Regions from separate parts of the Homo sapiens genome. Here region 2 is linked to region 1. Evidence: fine-mapped expression QTL. Tissue or cell type: whole blood. Region 1 holds a variant in brackets; the other region holds the start of a gene. Each region is shown on its reference strand, or each on the opposite one. Region 1 has its middle 45 kb from the start of QDPR. Region 2 holds the start of THAP3 (THAP domain containing 3).

Region 1 (9,630 bases):
GTTTTCTTTCTTCTTTTATCCTTCTGCCCCTTGGGAAAGCCCACTCATTTCCCTGCTCAGACAGCTGGTTTGGGAAAGTTGCACGCAGCAAACGGGAACAGCTTACCCACTGAACCACCATGCAGTAACAGGAGCTACATTTGGAATTCACAGTCCAGAAAAATGTCCAGCCTGCTTACAAAGCACCGGTAGAGGCTCAAAGGAAAACAGATACAACATAATCCTTTTCTTTTGCTAAATGACATCCTCATTTACATCCTCACCATATTAATTCTCTTTGTTTCAACTTAACTAAAGTCAAAGACAGCTTCTCAGGAAGTGTTATTCACATGTATTAGACAGCCTAAAATGACAAAATGTTCTAATTCCATTCGTGGATAAAAGTCAATTTGACACCAACACTAAGCTGTTATTTTTCAAATAACAATGGTAATGTTTAATTAGAATTTAACCTGGCTGCTTGCTTTCATTTAACAACGTACAGTACGCTGGTGGTTTCCTGACGAAAGCAAAGATTGACGTCCAATGTAAATGCTGCATTTCAAAAAAAGCTGCACACTACTAGTGTCTAATTATGCATAACACTCTGCCATTAATTACTAATATTTCAAGTGGCTTGGAGGGTTAGCTGGTCTTTAGCCCTTCCTATTATGACCACAGGTAAGCTTAAGTCTTTGTCAGATTATCACAATTGCTTTTAGTGATTACTTCTATAAACCAAGCCTACAAAAACCCTCCTAAATGTTTAATTATATTTCTTGATCTGTTTTAACTAAAAAAGATAATAGAAGAAAGCATCTACCATCATGCCCAGCACATAGTAGTTGCTTAATAAATAGTAGCTATTAACATAGTAAATAATCGGCTGGGTGCAGTGGCTCATGCCTATAATCCCAGCACTTTGGGAGGCCAAGGTGGGCGGATCATCTGAGGTCAAGAGTTTGAGACCAGCCTGGCCAACATGGTGAAACCCCGTCTCTACTAAAAATACAAAAATTAGCCAGGCATGGTGGCAGGCGCCTGTAATCCCAGCTACTCGGGAGGCTGAGGCAGGAGAATTGCTTGAACCCAGGAGGTGGAGGTTGCAATGAGCTTAGATCGTACTATTGTACTCCAGGTTGGGCAACAAAAGCAAAACTCTGTCTAAAAAAAAGAAAAAAAAAAAGTAAATATTCATACTTTTTTACTTGATCATTCATTACCAGAGTCCCGAGCTACTCACTGATGCAGTAAGTTTTCTTTCCTTCTTTCCTCTCTTAGACTCCTGCAGTCCATCGTCTCTAATATCCACTCACTGCTTCATTCATTCATGCCACACACACAGTCACAGAGCACTTGTTCTGTGCCAGGCATACATTTTCTCTAGATACTGATTCCTAATGAAATCTCCCTCTTGGAGACCCCCAATGCATATATTAGAGGCTCTGAGAAGTTTTATCTATCTATCAAATAGAGGATGGATAGATAGATGATAGATAGATAGATAGATAGATAGATAGATAGATAGATAGATAATGGATTAACTTTCAATATTTTCCTTACTTATGGACCTCTTTTTCCATGGACACCTATTACCATCCCAGCACAATGGTGTTCTAAGAAACACACTTTGGGAACAGTGCAGGACCACACCTGACACACTGTAGCACACTCCTGACCAAGATTCTGTCCTCGACCAAACTCTAGCCAGGGCCCTCTGAGCCCTTTCTCTACTAGACCTCAAGGCATGGCCTAGAAAGACTTGAGCAAACACTAACATAGTTTCTAACAGCTCAGCCATATCCCTAGGACAACTCCAGCTTCCTTAAAGTGCCTGCCTGAGAAAACTCCAGGTTGCCAAAAGAATGTACTGTTTGTTCCAGCAACCTGAGGACAGAGCCTGTCTCCCAGTCTCTGTGGGAGGGTAGGAGCCCACCTACATTCAATAAGAGCCAGGCAACAAACCCAGATGGGTTTCACATGGACCAATCTTTTCTTCCTACTTTTTGTAATTTGTCTTTTCTCTGACTCAAATGAGCCCCCAGTTGCCCCCACCCTACTCCAGTCTCCCTTTAAAATGCCCGGTCACCTCCGTACAAATCAAAGTTGAGTTTACACCTGACCTTCTTCCCTATTTCAATAGTATATAGTAGTTAACCCCTTTCTGAGGTTTTATGCTTTCTGGTTTCAGTTACCAGCAACTGTGATCTGAAAATATAAAAAGAAAAATTCCAGAAATAAACAATTCACAAGTTGTAAATTCCATGTCTGTTCTGGCTATCATGATGAAATCTCACACCATCCCACTCTTTCCTGACCTGGACGTAAATCATGTCTTTGTCCAGGGTACTCACGTTGCCTGTGCCACCCACCCACTAGTCACTCAGTAGCAATCTGGGTTATCAGATCAAAAAAACAGTATATAGGTGATATGGTTTGGCTGTGTCCCCACCCAAATCTCATCTTGAATTCCCACATGTTGTGGGAGGAACCCAGTGGGAGGTAATTGAATCCTGGGGGCAGGTCTTTCCCGTACTGTTCTCATGATAGTGAATAAGTCTCATGAGATCTGATGGTTTTAAAAAGGAGAGTTTCCCTGCACAAACTCTCTTCTCTCTTCGCCCGCCACCATCCATTTAAGATGTGACTTGCTCCTCCTTACCTTCCGCCATGATTGTGAGGCCTCCCCAGCCACGTGGAACTGTAAGTCCATTAAACCTCTTTCCTTTGTAAATTGCCCAGCCTCTGGTATGTCATTACCAGCAGCATGAAAACTAATACGATAGGGTTTGGTACTATCTGTGGTTTCAGGCATCCACTGGAGGTCTTGGAAGATAACCCCTCAGATAAGAGAAGACCACTGTATTACTGATTAATATCTGTCCATACCACATTAACTGGTGTCTGACTTTGTTTATCTTTGCCACTCCACCTAGTTCTCCACACATGAAAAGCCCTAAGGGAAGACTCATTAAAATTGATACAGGAGGATCTAGTTAATGCAATGAGGTCTAGGTGAGAATTGAGACTATCCTGTTTCCAAAAAGCAGGAAACAGGTATGTTTGTCCAAGACAACAAATTCCAGAACTGGCCTTAGAGTCCCACAGATGTAACTAAAATCCCAATTGGTCCATTGTGAAACCAACTTATCTGGGTCTCAGAGGTCCCAGTGAGGATTAACTGAGATAATGCTGAGGAAGACCAAAGCCTCCCCTGAGATATTTGCGATGCTTTACTCTCACAGTTGCCTTTGCCTATGCCTAGCTACTCAGCCTATGCATCACAGTCTGTCCCTCAAGATACAGATAAGGAAATCAGCCTTTCCTTTAATAGGAGGGAGCAAGGAGGCAGGGATAAAAATTTTAACCAGTGGGCCAGGCACGGTGGCTCACACCTATAATCTCAGCACTTTGGGAGACTGAGGCAGGAGGATCACTTGAGTTCAGGAGTTCAAGACCAGCCTAGACAACATAGTGAGACTTCCTCTCTACTAAAAATCAAGAAAATTAGCTGGGTGTGGTGATGCGTAACTGTGGTCCCAGCTACTTGGGCGTATGAGGCAGGAGGATCACTTGAGACCAGGAGTTCGAGACTGCAGTTTGCCCCGCTGCACTCCAGTCTGGGCAACAGAGTGAGACTCTATCTCAAAAAAAAAAAAAAAAAAATTTAACCAGGCCGGGCACAGTGGCTCACACATGTAATCCCAGCACTTTAGGAGGTTGAGGCGTGCAGATCACTTGAACTCAGGAGTTCAAGACCAGCCTGGCCAACATGGTGAAACCTCGTCTCTACTAAAAACACAAAAATTAGCTGGATGTGTAATCC[C/T]AGTTACTCAGGAGGCTGAGGCATGAGAATTGTTTGAACCCGGGAGGCAGAGGTTGCAGTGAGCCAAGATCATGTCACTGTACTCCAGCCTGGGCTGCGACTCAGAAAAAAAAAAAATTAACCAGTGGAGGCCAGTAATTTTTTCAACCCATGCATGCACAGGCACACACACACACACACACACACACACAGCATTTTTATAGATTTTTTCCAAGCATGAGATGAAACAAAGGAGCAGTTCCATGGCAAGAATGAAAATAACTCCAGATTAAATATCAGACACCCTGTTCTTTAAGAGTTCCTCTGCCTCCCACCACCTCAGCAAAGCTATGCATTCTCCTTTGCTCTCTCCTCACACTTTTATGCAGAGCCAGTCCGCTCTTTGTGGCCTCAACCCCCGAATTTGATTCCAGGTCTACCAGCTCTCCGAAAGACATTCCCATAGAAGCCCTCATGAACAGGCAAGTATGCTCTCAAATAGCAAAGTTTTCCTCTGCCTAAGCCTGCACCTACACAGATCCCAAGAAAGCCAACTTCAAGTCCAAAAATGGCCCATAAGGAGGCAGCTGGAGTGTAAAGCAGAACTCCCCAATCTCCAATCACTCAAACATGAGCTGCCTGAGTTTCCCCATACACCACATATTCATACCATGTCTACTAGAATGATAACTGCCGAAAGATGCTTGTGTCCTAATTCCCGGAACCTGTGAATATGGCACCTTACATGGCAAAAGGGACTTTGCAGATGTGATTAAAAGGATCTCGAAAAGGAGAGATTATTCTGGATTTCCTAGGAGGGCCCAATGTAATTATAAGGCTCCTTATAAAAGGGAGGCAGAAGGGTCAAACTCAGAAAAACCAGGTGTGTTGTGAGGATGGGGCCCTAAGCTAAGGAAGGCAGGCAGCTTCTAAAAGCTAGAGAAAGCAAGGACTCAAGTTCTTCCCTAGAGCCCTCAGAAGAAATGCAGCCCTGGCAACACCTTGATTTTAAGACTTCTGTTTTTGTTTTTTGGGGTTTAGTTTTTTGAGATGGAGTCTCGCTCTGTTGCCCAGGCTGGAATGCAGTGACACGATCTTGGCTCACTGCAACCTCCACCTCCCAGGTCCGTGCAATTCTCCTACCTCAGCCTCCCAAGTAGCTGGGACTATAGGCATGAGCCACCATGCCTGGCTAATTTTTTGTACTTTCAGTAGAGACAGGATTTCACCACGTTGGCCAGGCTGGTCTCGAACTCCTGAGCTCAAGTGATCCGCCTGCCTTGGCCTCCCAAAGTGCTGGAATTACAGGTGTGAGCCACTGTGCCCGGCCACCATGATTTTAAGACTTCTGGCCTCTGTAACTATAAGATGATCAATTTGTATTGTTTTAAACCAATAAGTTGGTGGTAATTTGTTACAGCAGCAATAGGAAGCTAATACACTATATACATTACATTATGTAGTGTATTCCTCAGGTAATGTTTATTTTTTATGCACTGTCTACTTATCCTCATCCTCACAATAATATCCATGTATTCATGGTTTTGATGTGGTTGCTATGTATTTTCCTAATACACATCAAAATAAACAACAGAGCGAGACTCTGTTGTTTATGATTATTAAATAAGAAGCGTTCACCTGTGTCCCTCCCCATACCCCCGGTACACCTGCCCCGAGGGCACAGTGTGGATCCCACTTTGGAAAATTCTGGTGCAAAGGGACGCTCAAGGCCCTCAAGATGGGAAACCAGAGTTCCACGCCTGGCTCTTCCACTGATGGCCTTGAGCGGGTCACTCTGAAACTCCTGCTCCCTAGCACTCTCCTCTGTACAGGGGTTCCATAGAATTTCTTGTTGGACCGCAGCCCTCTGCTGTCCACCAGGATTACCCAGGACAGTCGGTGGCTGAGCAGAGAGTCAGCCAAGGGTTTCCATTCCCTGGGCCCTTAAACCCATTCCTCTTACCTGAGTTCTCCAGCTTGAACCCCCCACGCCACCCCACCCTGTACATGGAGTCAGAAAGCTGAAGTTTAGAGCAATGACAACCTCTCTCCACTCCTCTTTTTCCCTCCGGAGCATCTACGCATCAAGCCTGGATGACATCAAAGAAAAAAAGCTGCTTCACGTCTCCCTCCACCCTCCGTCGGTCACTCTGAATCACACTCACATAGAGAGAGGATCAGCCAACCACTCCAGTGTGGTTTAAAGGCAGGAACACTACAGTAGAAGTTCAAAAATCTGGTTTAAATATGGCTTCATGACCTGCCAATCCGGTGACCTTAGCCTCTCTGATACTCAGTTTCCTCCTTTGTAAACAGGGAAAATCTGACTTAGCTCAAACTATGAGTATGAAGATTCAATGAAATAACATAGGCTCAATCTCACAGCACCAAGCCTGATACATGGTAGGTATTCAGCAAATGTCACCTGAGCCTAAATTGGAATCAATAACCATTTCCAAAGTGTGCAGAGGGGACGGACACTGTACAGGGACTCCTGATACGTGACGGCAGGGCACAGACCTTTTCCCATGGCTGGCGGACATACTGAGGTCTACACTGCTGTTGCGATGACTGTTGCTGTTTGTGTGCTGTTGTTTGAAGGTGGATTGGGCTTTCACGATGTTGCAAACTTGGCGATGTTTAGGAAGCTGCTACTATTACATTGGTGCAAAAGTAATAGCGGTTTTTGCTATTGCTTTTAGTGGCAAAAACCGCGATTACTTTTGCACCAACTTACACATTTTTGAACCTATTTCCACTTCTGTGAAGTAAGCCAGAGAAATGAGGGGAGAAAGGGTGAGGGGAAGAAGACAGGAAGGCAGGAAAGGAGCGAAAGGCAAAGTGAACAGCAGCAGGTCTCCAGTGCTTGGGGTGACTTATCGATCTCAGATCCACTCACAGGGCTGAGCAGAGGCCCCACTAGGCAAAGAAAACTGAACCAAGTTTCCCACGCTAGTTTTCCAAGACGAATTGTCTCATCGGCTGCCAATGCCTGCCCCCTTGCAGAAGTTCTTCAAACTGCTTGTATTTTTATTTATTTATTTATTTATTTATTTATTTATTTTTAATGCCAGGACACTTGGAAAGGCTCACAATGAGAAAATGTTTTAAGCTTCCAGAGGTTCCCCGTTGCCTAAAGATAAAAACCACCTGACAGAGATCCTTCATGATGCAGCCCCTGCCCACGAAGACACCTCTCCTCCATGCACTCCCCGCCAGCACTTTATCCTGTAATGATAACAAGCTCCATAGTTCCCCAATAATTAATTGAGTTGATAAGAGGCCAACTTGGGAATGAGATAGACCAGAGTTCAAAATTCTGATGCTTTTTCCTCTAGCTGTGTGGCTCTGGGTAAGTTATCTAACTCACGGCTGGGCACCGTGGCTCACGCCTGTAATCTCAGCACTTTGGGAGGCTGAGGCAGGTAGATCACCTGAGGTCAGTAGTTTGAGACCAGCCTGGTCAACATGGTGAAACCTTGTCTCTACTAAAAATACAAAATTAGCCAGGTGTGGTGGCACACGCCTGTAGTCCCAGCTACTCGGGAGGCTGAGACAGGAGAATCACTTGAACCTGGGAGGCAGAGTCTGCAGTGAGCCGAGATCATGTCACTGCACTCCAGCCTGGGCAAGACAGAGTGAGACTCCATCTCAAAAAAATAAAATAAAAGAAAGAAAAGATATCTAACTCTCTCAACTTGTTCCTCATCTTTAAAATGGGAATAATAACAGCACTTACCTCCTAGGGTTGCTCTAGAATTAAATTAGAATTAAATGAGGTAACGCATGAAAAGCATCTTCTAAGGGTGCTTTATGCCCCATGCACTTTAGCTGCCAAGGGTAAATGCAGCCTGTTCTTTCTTTTCTTTTTTTTTTTTTTTAATTATACTTTAAGTTTTAGGGTACATGTGCACAACATGCAGGTTTGTTACATATGTATACATGTGCCATGTTGGTGTGTTGCACCCATCAACTCGTCATTTAACATTAGGTATATCTCCTAATGCTATCCCTCCCCGCTCCCCCCACACCACAACAGGCCCCAGTGTGTGATGTTCCCCTTCCTGTGTCCATGTGTTCTCATTGTTCAATTCCCACCTATGAGTGAGAACATGCGGTGTTTGGTTTTTTGTCCTTGCGATAGTTTGCTGAGAATGATGGTTTCCAGCTTCATCCAGCAGCCTGTTCTTTCTACCCCTGAGCCATTCACTTAACAAGCGCTTATTATGCATTACTTGGATGACAAAGGAGGCATAGTCCCTGCTTTAAAGAACTTGTAGTTGAGTGAAGAGACAGAAATATAAACAAGTAACTATTATACTCTTAATTTGACAAAGGCAGTGTTTGAGTTAAATATAGCTTGTGTCCCTCTCAAGTCAAGCAAAACCTAAGATAAGGGATTGTATGAACTAATTTATTTAAGGAAGTGGTCCTCGGAAGCAGAGTTGGGGACTAGGGGCATAGGAAGAGTGAAACAGGGCAGGAGGGAAAGCCAACACACATTTTATTATGTTGGTGCAAAAGTGATTGCGGTTTCTGGTATTACTTTCAATGGTAAAAACCGCAATGACTTTTGCAGCAACCTCATACCAAGCTGCATCACGTTCTAAGTAACTGGGAATGATGCCACTAGAGGCTGTCTAAGGAGTGGTGAAGAGTGATGTGCCTCATTCTGACACATCGTCAGAAGGACAGGAGGGGAACATTCGTCCACCAGCCCGTCTCCCAGTGGTCAAGTGTGTTGCCCCTTGGAGCATTAACTCTCCACCCTCCCAGGTTTGCGCATGTGTGAGTGCCTGGCACATTTCTGCAGACATCCCATTCCTCAATGTCAGGCAAGCCCAGAGGCAGAAAGCGAGGTAGGCAGGACAGCCAGGGACATGCGGTCAGCTTGCACTTGCTCAAAGCTGGTGGCCCCAGCCATGACTGGAATAAAATGTGGGCAGGGAGGATGCAAGGCGAGGCACAAGAGGTGGCCAATGACGACACAGGAAACTGTCGGTAGGAGGGGCACCTGACCCAGCCCAGCCTTTGGGCAAAGGGATGGGATTTTATCAGATAAGGGTTCCTGGAACGGATGACTATGCCAGGTCTAGGAGGAGTTAGCTGAATCAAGGTGGAGAAGAGGAGAGAAATGGCTGGGCTAAAGCAATGGAGGAAGGTGGAGTGCAGAGGCAGGAGGAGGGCAGGTTCAAGGAATAATTAGGGGGTACAATTGTCAGGGCGAGGCGAGGGACGGGATGATGAGTGGGGAGTAAGAGTGGTTGTGGATAACGTGGTTTCTGACCCCCGTGTCTCCACTCAAGACAGAAAGGGAGGAGGAGAATGTGGCTCCCAGGATGGATACTGAGCTCTGATGCACCATGTTCAACTTAACTCTGCGATACTCAAGTGGAGAAGGTCAAGAAGCTCCCGGGTGCTGGAGTCGGATGCTTAGGAAGGCTTTAAAGTTGGCGTATGGAGAAATGGAACAGGATCTTGAAAAGGACTTGCTGTATCAGGTTTTCATTAATGTGCAAAGGCCAAGAACACAACAGGTACCAAGTCCCCACATTCCTAGGCAAAGTGTTAGGTCACTGGTGCAGGACCCATCAAGAGACTAGGAAGCCATTGTCAGATCCCACGCATACCCACCACCAGCCTTTGATGCTGGAGAGGTGGAAGAGGTAGAGAGACAATGTCTCCAGAGAGCTGTTGGAATCTTGCACCATTTCTCCTCTCCCTGCCCCTCTCTGGGGAGTGAAGAAGGAGGGCAAATGCTCATGTTTTCCCAAGGCTAGATGTGGGCCATATGGGAAGGAGCCAACCTCAAGCCATGTTGAAAGGAACACTTCCCAGGAGTTAGC
Region 2 (9,630 bases), not on the chromosome of region 1:
TGATGAATTTTCTGTCTCTAAGATGGGGCTGAGGGTTCAGCAGGGAGTTTCTCTCTTCGTGGCATCACATTAAACTCATGGCACTGATGGCACTGGGTTTTTTTTTTTTTGAGACACAGAATCTCCCTCCCGTTACCAAGGCTGGAGTGCAGTGGCTCACTGCAACATTTGCCTCCCGGGTTCAAGCGATTCTCCTGCCTCAGCCTCCCAAGTAGCTGGGACTACAGGCACCACCACCACGCCCAGCTAATTTTTGTATTTTTAGTAGAGATGGGGTTTCACCATGTTGGCCAGGTTGGTCTTGAACTCCTGGTCTCAGGTGATCCGCCTGCCTTGGCGTCCCAGAGTGCTGGGATTACAGGTGTGAGCCACCACGCCCAGCCAGAACTCATGTTACTGTTGCTTCAAGTGTGATGCTGATGGGCAGAGAAGCTCAAAGTTGTGCAGATGTCTCTGGAGGTCTGACATGGCTGGGTGGCTGGGGATGCTCTGCTCTGGGCTGGATCTTGTCACCAGTAACTGGAATCTGCCACCTTTGTCTTTTTAGGAACTCCCTTTAAGGAGCAGCCCCAGCCCTGCTAACAGCACTGCTGGTACCATTGACAGCGACGGCTGGGACGCGGGTTTCTCAGACATCGCGTCCTCAGTGCCCTTGCCAGTCTCTGACCGCTGCTTTAGCCACCTGCAGCCTACTCTCTTGCAGCGAGCCAAGCCCAGTAACTTCCTGCTGGACAGAAAGAAAACGGACAAGCTGAAGAAGAAGAAGAAGAGGAAGCGCAGGGACAGTGATGCGCCTGGGAAAGAGGGGTACAGGGGGGGCTTGCTGAAGCTGGAAGCCGCTGACCCCTACGTGGAGACCCCCACGAGTCCCACCTTGCAGGATATCCCCCAGGCTCCCAGCGACCCCTGCTCGGGCTGGGACTCCGATACTCCCTCGAGTGGATCTTGTGCCACTGTGTCACCTGATCAGGTCAAAGAAATAAAAACTGAAGGCAAACGGACTATCGTCCGGCAGGGAAAGCAGGTGGTGTTCCGAGATGAGGACAGCACTGGCAATGATGAGGACATCATGGTGGACTCAGGTGAGTGGTCCCTGAAGGATGATGACCCTTGTTGGCTTGTGGTTAGAAGAGAGGTTATTTTATTAAGTGGTCATCTCTCTGGGGCACAGGGTCTGGTGCCTTCCGTAGAGTGTGACAGCCCCACTGTCCAAGGAGGAGAAAAGCTGCAGGAATGTGGATATCGAGATGTTTAGGAAGGGGTTGATTGCCACTAGAGACAGCTGAGATTCTAAGACCTTAGAACATAAAAAGGGTATAGTTCTAAGTAAGCATCCAGGTAAGCATCCAGGCCGGGCACGGTGGCTCCACCAGTAATCCCGGCACTTTGGGAGGCCAAGGCAGGTGGATTGCTTGAGCTCAGGAGTTGGAGACCAGCCTGGGCAGCATGGCAAAGCCCTGTCACTGCAAAAATACAAAAAAAGGCTGGGCGCAGTGGCTCATGCCTGTAATCCCAGCACTTTGGGAGGCCGAGGCAGGCAGATCACGAGGTCAGGAGTTCGAGACCAGCCTGACCAACATGGTGAAACCCCGACTCTACTAAAGATACAAAAAAAAAAAAGAAAAAATTAGCTGGGCGTGGTGGTGCGCGCCTGCAATTCCAGCTACTCAGGAGGCTGAGGTAGGAGAATTACTTAAACCCAGGAGGTGGAGGTTGCAGTGAGCCAAGATCGCGCCATTGCACTCCAGCCTGGGCGACAGCAAAACTCCGTCTCAAGAAAAAAAAAAAAAACAATAGTCGAGTGTGGTGGTGTGTGCCTGTAGTCCCAGCTATTTGGGAGGCTGAGGTGGGAGGATGGCTTGACTGCAGGAGTTTGAGGCTGCAGTGAGGTATGATTGCACCACTGCACTCCAGCCAGGGTGACAGAGTGAGACCCTGTCTTAGGGAAAAAAAAAAAAAAGTAAGCATCTCCTGGGTAATACCTGGTTCCCACACATTTTGGAGCCCCTCGTGCCTTTTCAGAGAGAAGTGTCAGCTTCGAGTGGCAGTTGGAAGTGTTCTCGTCAGTAGAGTTAATGGGTTTCATGGAAGCCCAGCTGATGGCGAGGAATGATGGGAATTTCTCTTCCCTCCTTGAGAGTATCTTTCCTTCCAGATGACGATTCCTGGGACCTCGTGACCTGCTTCTGCATGAAGCCATTTGCCGGCCGCCCCATGATCGAGTGTAATGAGTGCCACACCTGGATTCACCTGTCCTGTGCGAAAATCCGGAAATCCAATGTTCCAGAAGTGTTTGTCTGCCAAAAGTGCCGGGACTCCAAGTTTGACATCCGCCGTTCCAACCGCTCGCGGACGGGCTCCCGGAAGCTGTTCCTGGACTGACTGCTGGCTGGCGAGGAGGCTGCGAGCGTGGAATCGGAAGCGACCGCGGGCTTTTTTGCCCTTCTCTTAGTTGAGCACAGAACCCTCAGCTCTGGTGCGGGCAGATCCCTGCCATTTAGGTGCCTAAGCAAAAGGACAGGCTGTCCAAGGTAGAAACTGTACATAGCCGGTGACCGAATGCGACCTTTGCCAGCCAGAGCTGCTGCCAGAGCTGCGTTCCCTGCAGTGGAGGTGGACTGGACACCCACGTGCAGCGGGTTTGGCTCATTTGAAAATGAGGGTCCGTGGTAGCTGTGCGTTTTGCTATCATTGCTAAGAGATTCCCGCTGATTGGGCTCAGTGCCAGCTGTTATTCTGCTTCCACTGTGTTGGGGAGAGGTGTTCGGTTTCCCCAGCCTGTTAATGAACAGCCATACGTGTAAGCTTTTTCTTGAGTGTTAAGTCTTTTACCAAAAGTGTCTGTACAGCAGCCATCCAAGTTGCCCCTACTTAGTGGCTTGCCCTCTGCCTGCCTCAGCTGCTGCCTGACCGGCTGGGGGAGGCACTGGCGGGAGGCCTCGGGCTCCCCTGGAAGGGCGCTGGGCTGGCGGGTCAGCTGGTGGTTCTTAGGTTTCCTTCTGTTTGTTAAAAGGGACAATGTGGCCACTTCTCTGTGGAAAGGGAGTTGGTTGGGGGGTTGAGATGGCCCGTGTTCATAACTCAGTTTCCTGTTTTGCACGATGTAAAAACCCTGTCTTTTTGCACGATACAGCCAAAAGTATTGGCTGATTTCTTGCTGAGTGCCCTCTTAGTTGGTGTGTGAGGTCTTGGTGGGCTCAGGCCAGCTGTTTGCGAGTGTGGGAACTCATAGGTTCTGTCTTTGTCTCTTCCTTTCACCTCATTCTGGTAGCAGCATAAAGGTTAGGCAATCACTGGGACCCGCATGGTGTTCCTCCAAAGAATAGGGTAAAGGAGAGCTGGGAGGGAGCCCTCTCCGTTGGGTGACTCTTGTGTGCCCTTTAGACAGGCTGGCCTGCCGGTTCCACAGGGTACAGTTAGGACTTGAGTCTTTCTTTTTCTGTTTTGAGTTGGTGAGTGAGTGATAGGGTAACATGGGCCTTCAGGATGACCCCTTGGAACTGTGCCGAGTTCCTTAAATCTCAGCTGGGATCCTGGACCTGGGAGGCCCCTGTGAGGGCCAGCTCTGGAAAAACCTGGGAGTTGATGCCGGAGGCTGTGGAAGAACTCTGCTCGAGGGCAGGGTGCCCTGGAACACTGGTAGTTCTGGGGCTGGGAGGGAGAGGGGCTCCGGCTTTCTCTGAAATGAACACTGCTCTTCAGCAGTTCAAGTACTTGTTCTCAAAACATTTTCTAATTGATTGGTAGGTTTTCATAAGCATTGTTTCTTTAAGGCATGGAAAGGGAAGAATGCTCAAGCAAGTCATGTTTGTTTTCAGTGGGATGGGCCCGCGTTCTCACTGCTGGGGGCTTCCCCTTCATGTGGCACCTTTGTGCCAGGCCACCAGGCAGACTCTTCCCACCTTCTCCCACTGAAGCACCAAGGGGCTTGAACCGTAATTTGGCTAATCAGAGGCATTTTTTTTGTCCTAGTATCTTTCACACTTGTCCAACCGTCTTATTTTTTTAAAAGTTCTGTTGCTTGTATTAACACGAAACTAGAGAGAAATAGTTTCTGAAGCCAGTTTATTGTGAAGATCCCCAAGGGGGAGGTTCGGTAGAGAAAAATAGTAAGCTGGTTTAGAAACTGACGAGGGCAAACAGCCAGGACGCATTGGAGAGGAATTTGCCAAAGATCTACCCTGAGATAACGCCTGTCCAGTGTCTTCACCACGTGAATAACCAGCGCTCCAAAGTGTTTTTCTGCTTTGAAAAAAAAAAATTCCACAAGCTTTTAAAGGTGCATTTAAGAATCCATGTGACTTTAGAATGGAACTGCCGGCCCTGGCAACTGTCACGTGTGCTAGAAGGTTCGATGCCTCTGGAATGCATGTGATACTCATCTCCATTTTGTTTCCTTGATTGCATTTTTGTTCTTTTAGCAGATCTGTCCCTGTGGGTGGTGTCTAAGAAGTCGGACACCTTGGTTTTTGTGTTAGATTGAGCTGGGCAGCTGCAATCAGCTTCTTTATATGCAAATTAGGCACGACCCATCTGTGGTTCCTGGTTGGTGGCTAATGAAGTGAGGGGAGGGAGGGATGTCACCCCAAAAGTAGGCCCTCCCATTGGCTTTGGCCAGGCCAGACACTTCACATCGTTTACATGGTTCTGTGTAATTTTAAAGTTTATGTGTATAAAGCGAAGCTGTTTCTGTGAAACTGTATATTTTGTAAATAAATATATTGCTACTTTGAGGTTCATGATTCAAGGTTCAGGCGATTGCGTTCTGTGCTGAAGGACAATTGTGTTTCTTTTCTCCTTGCTACCTCCCCAAAGCATGATTACATCAAGTCTCTGGGAAGGCAGCGTCTCAGTGTGCACTTAGCAGGATGGAAAATGCCCACGGTGTTAAGGTACCTTGCTGGTGAATTCCTTAGAAACAAACCACAGGACGAGTAGATGTGAATGGTTTTTGCAGTTTCTTCATCAGATTGAGGATTAGCTCAAGCCCCAGTGAGTGGTTAGCCTACTTTTGATTTTTTTTTTGTTTTTGAGACTTGAGTTTCGTTCTTGTCACCTAGGCTGTGAAGTGCTGTGATGAGATTTTGGCTCATTGTAACTTCCACCTCCCGGGTTCAAGAGATTCTCCTGCTTCAGCCTTCCGAGTAGCTGGAATTACAGGTGCCCGCCACCATGTGCGGCTAATTTTTGTATTTTTAGTAGAGATGGGGTTTCACCATGTCGGTCAGGCTGGCCTTGAACTCCTGATCTCAGGTGATCCGCCTGCCTCGGCCTCCCAAAGTGCTGGGATTACAGGCGTGAGCCACTGCGCCTGGCCGATTTTTTTTTTTTTCTTCTTACAAGATGACGCCTTCCCTATAGGCTGCTTTGAGAAAGCTGCAGCCTCGGAGTTTCTGCAAGGCCTGAACTGGAATCTCCCTCCCCTTCAGTTGCCCTTTTTGCCTCTTCACGTTTGGGGGTTCCCTGTGACCAAACTTAAGGGCAGTGAGCTGTCTGGCCTCTGAACTGACACCACCAGTGGCCAACTAGTACCACCTCCAGTGACGTCAGAGGAGTCCAGACCTATTCACAATTCAAAGCCCTAAAAACACTGAGGGGTTGGCCGTTGGTTTCCAGTTGTCCAAGCCTGTGAGTGGCTATGCGTCCTGGTTGGGTGCTCAAAGCAAGGAGGTGAAAGGCGACCAGCATTGGCGAATGGGGTAAGACTTGCACAGGCCCAAGGCTAGGAGTTGGGGTTTCGGGCCTGAATTGGGGCCCGGAGCACCCCTTTACGTGGCGCCCCGGGTCCCGTCCGACCCTGGGGAGACGCGGGTGGCTGGGATGGCAGGATGAGCGCGCCCTGGAGGCGAGCCAGGCCCGTCACCACCTCCCAGCGGCCCCGCCCCTCCCCGCAGGTCCCTCCCCTCTCCGCAGGCCCCGCCGCCGCCGCCATCTTTGTTGGGGGCAGCCAGGCCTGGCTCGAGATGCCGAAGTCGTGCGCGGCCCGGCAGTGCTGCAACCGCTACAGCAGCCGCAGGAAGCAGCTCACCTTCCACCGGTAAGAGGCGGGGACCCGGGGGCGCGGGAGGCCCAGACCCGGGGCCCGCGGACCGACTCCGAGGCCTTGGCGCGCCGGGCGGGAGGCCCAAAGGCGTGCGGCCGCTGGGCCCGGGGACAGGCCGAGGTCCTGGGCCCAGAGGGGCTGGCGCCGCCGCGCCCGCCGCGGGGATGCGGGGAGTGGCGGACGGAGGGGCAGCGGCGCACCTGGCGGGGCCAGGGCCGGGACGTGCAGGGAGCGGAGCAGGTGTTTGCTGAACAGACTAGCGGGCCGCGGCCGGGGTTTGCTGTGTCCCTGGTCGCTGCAGCCCCCGCCGCGCGCGGTCCTGAAGGGAGCCCGGCACCTGGGCAGTGCAGTGGAGGAGTGGAACCCCCAGGGGCGTCCTGGCAGTGGGAAGGGACTCTGCAGGGTCGCGGGAGGACGCTGGAGACTTTGGAGTCTGCTCCAGCACTCGCCCGGCCCGGCCCGGCCCGGCCCAGGAGCAATCGTCATTAGTCACAGTTGCGCTTTCTCCAAGGTCCAGTCACGGCACCATTTCTCTACCCACTTTTGGGCACATTCCGAAGGGGGGCTTGTGCTCATCGTTCCCATTCCCTCTGCTCCCATTGTTCTGTTTTGTGATAAATGCTTTGCTTGAAGTATACGTAATGTACATGCAGAAAAATGCACGAATCATAAGTATACAGCCCAGCGAGTTTTCCCCAAGTGAACGTCACTGAACTGAAACGTTACCAGCTGGGCGCGGTGGCTCAAGCCTGTCATCCCAGCACTTTGGGAGGCCGAGGCGGGAGGATCGCTTGAGCCTGGGAGTTCGAGACCTGCCTGGGCAACAGAAGGAGACCCTACCTCTACAAATAATTTAAAAAAATTAGCCAGGCAAGGTGGTGTGCCCCTGTAGTCCCAGCTGCTCGGGAGACTGAAGTAGGAGGATCGCTTGAACCCAGCTTCGAGGCTGCAGTGAGCTATAATCTTGCCACTGCACTCCAGCCTGGGTGACAGAGCGATACCTCATCTCAAAATAAGAAATAAAACATCACTACCCCCGAGAAGAACCCCTACCTGGACCCCCTCCCAGGCCCTCCTCCTCTCTCCTGCCCAAAGGGAACCCTATCCTGCCCGCTATCAGAGTGGATTGCAGTTCATTCGCTTTCGTTGCCACATAATATTCCATTGAATGCAAGTGCCAGAATTTACTGATTTGTTCTACAATTGAAGGGCATTTGGGTGGCCCCATTTTTTGGATGACAAATACATGGTTCTGGAGGCTGGGCGTGGTGGCTCACGCCTGTAATCCCAGCACTTTGGGAGGCCGAGCTGGGTGGATCACCTGAGGTCAGGAGTTGGAGACCAGCCTGACCAACATGGTGAAACCCCGTCTCTACTTCTCTACTACAAATACAAAAATTACCCGGGCGTGGTAGCGCGCACCTGAAATCCCAGCTACTCAGGAGGCTAAGGCAGGAGAATCACTTGACCCTGGGAGGCAGAGCTTGCAGTGAACCGAGATCGCACCACTACACTCCATCTTGGGCAACAGAGCGAGACTCCGTCTCAAAAAACAAAACAAAACAAACATTGTTTTGGCCAGTTTTGGTGGGACTTGTGTTGCAGTGCATCTATCTGTTTTGCCTCTGTCAGGTATGTACTTGGGGATGGAGTTGCTGCGCCTTCTCTCTTGAAGTCGTTTCCTCCACTCCCACGAGAGCTCTGTCACATCACTAGTGAGCCTTGTGACACTGATCGATTGCATAGCATTTCACACAACTGACCCCTGAGCCTGGGTCACTTTTCCCGCATGGCGTCTGGTACACTTCTTGGCCACAGGTGTCTCTTCTCAGTCTCCTTTGCTGGATCCTCCTTATTTCCAGCACTAAGTGTTGGAGCCCTGGGGTGTGGGCCATGGCCCAGGGGTGGCTTCTAGCCACACTTGCTCCCCAGGGGCCCATCTCACCCAGGCTTATCGGTTCCGCAGGGTTGGCCGCCACACTGACATCTCCAGATGCGTGTGGCCGCCTGTCACCCCAGCACATGGAGAGCCTAAAAAGCACCTCAAATTTAACTCCTGACATAAAAAACAAACTTCTTTTTTTGGAGACAGACTCTCACTCTGTTGCCCAGGTGGAGTGCAGTGGCGCAGTCTCGGCTCACTGCAGCCTCTGCCTCCCTGGTTCAGGTGATTCTTGTGCCTCAGCCTCCCAAGTAGCTGGGATCACAGGAGTGCGCCACCACGCTGGGCTAATTTTTGCATCTTTAGTAGAGATGGGGTTTCACCATGTTGGCCAGGCTGGTCTTGAACTCCTGAGTTGAGGCAGTCTGTCTGCCTTGGCCTCCCAAAGTGCTGGGATTACAGGCGTGAGCCACCATGCTCAGCTGCTACAAAACAAACTTCTGATCCCCTTAACCTGCCGTCCTGTAACTTAATTTTATCTCCAACATGAAACTCCTTCCTTCTCAATTTTACCATCTACAGGCAAACCTTACTGCATGGCTTTCAAAATACATCCAAGTCTGCCCTCTCATTACCACTTCCTGCCAATGCCTGGTCCCACAGCAGCCAGGGTGGACCCAGGTTCCATCTCACCTCTGTCTAGAGCCTCCAGGGACTCCCCAGCTGCTCAGGGCCCTGCGTCATGCAGTCCCCACTCCCTCTCGCTGTCTCAGCTGGACCTGCGTGAGTGGCCGTTCCTGCTGTCCCTTCTGAAGCCTGCGTCGCTTGTGCTGCCACTTCCTGCGGTCTGTGCTCAAACATCACCCCTTCAGCTGCCTCTCCTCACCACCCCAGGGCTTCCCTCTGTCTGTTCTCTGGAGCAGCTGTCATCCCCAGAAGACACCGTCCACATCTGTGTGGCTCATCACTGTGCCCCCGCTCCAGAATATCAGCTCTTGGGGGCCAGGACTGTCTCATTACCCCCCATCCCTAGCACGAAGAACAGGGCCCGGCTCCTGGTAGGCTCCTGGCAAATGTAGCATCGGAAGCAGCTCACTTGGGCTCTCTGGCCATGCTCGTGGTCTCGGGTTTCCTATTAAGAGTGCTTTAACAGCTGTGACAGAAGCTTCCAGAAATTAGATGTGATTTAATAAACCGAGAGGACTGAATGTCCACAGCTGTCCAGGGAAGTACTCTGTAGTGATGTGAAAATTCCGAATGACTCTGAGGCGCTGGGTCCAGCCTTGCTGGGCCTCACACCCCGTGCCTCTGCCCTTAGGTTTCCGTTCAGCCGCCCGGAGCTGCTGAAGGAATGGGTGCTGAACATCGGCCGGGGCAACTTCAAGCCCAAGCAGCACACGGTCATCTGCTCCGAGCACTTCCGGCCAGAGTGCTTCAGCGCCTTTGGAAACCGCAAGAACCTAAAGCACAATGCCGTGCCCACGGTGTTCGCCTTTCAGGACCCCACACAGGTAGGAGGGCACTGCACCTTCCGTCTGGTCACATCCAGCCTGCGTTGTTTACCAGCAGCTGGGGGCAGTGGGGGTGGCGGCATGTGTGGGAAAAGCCAAGGCCAAGAACTCCAGTGACAACAGCACTGTCACGCCTCTGGGGTCCACAGCCCTGTGGCCCTGCTGGCCATGACCTCGGCTTTAAGAGAAGTCAT

The links. PIP is the estimated chance that this variant, and not a neighbour inherited with it, causes the effect. A credible set is the group of variants that fine-mapping cannot tell apart.
Region 2: THAP3 starts here. The variant in region 1 is the best candidate, but not a certain one, in a credible set for the expression of THAP3 in whole blood (TOPMed, PIP 0.51).

What each region holds. Positions count from the first base shown.
Region 1 is chr4:17,462,065-17,471,694 of GRCh38, forward strand. No RefSeq gene overlaps it. Among named protein-coding and RNA genes, the nearest start is that of QDPR, 45 kb to the right of the region's middle. RefSeq lists an enhancer at 8,668-9,167. The variant C/T (reference allele first, on the strand shown) is at 3,806.
Region 2 is chr1:6,619,256-6,628,885 of GRCh38, forward strand. It overlaps THAP3 (THAP domain containing 3), which reads left to right and starts at 5,613. Exons shown (of 6, transcript NM_001195753.2): 1 at 5,613-5,699; 2 at 5,895-6,037; 3 at 9,244-9,436. The coding sequence starts at 5,964. It overlaps PHF13 (PHD finger protein 13), which reads left to right. Exons shown (of 4, transcript NM_153812.3): 3 at 548-1,082; 4 at 2,156-4,775. The coding sequence ends at 2,382. RefSeq lists a silencer at 6,004-6,413.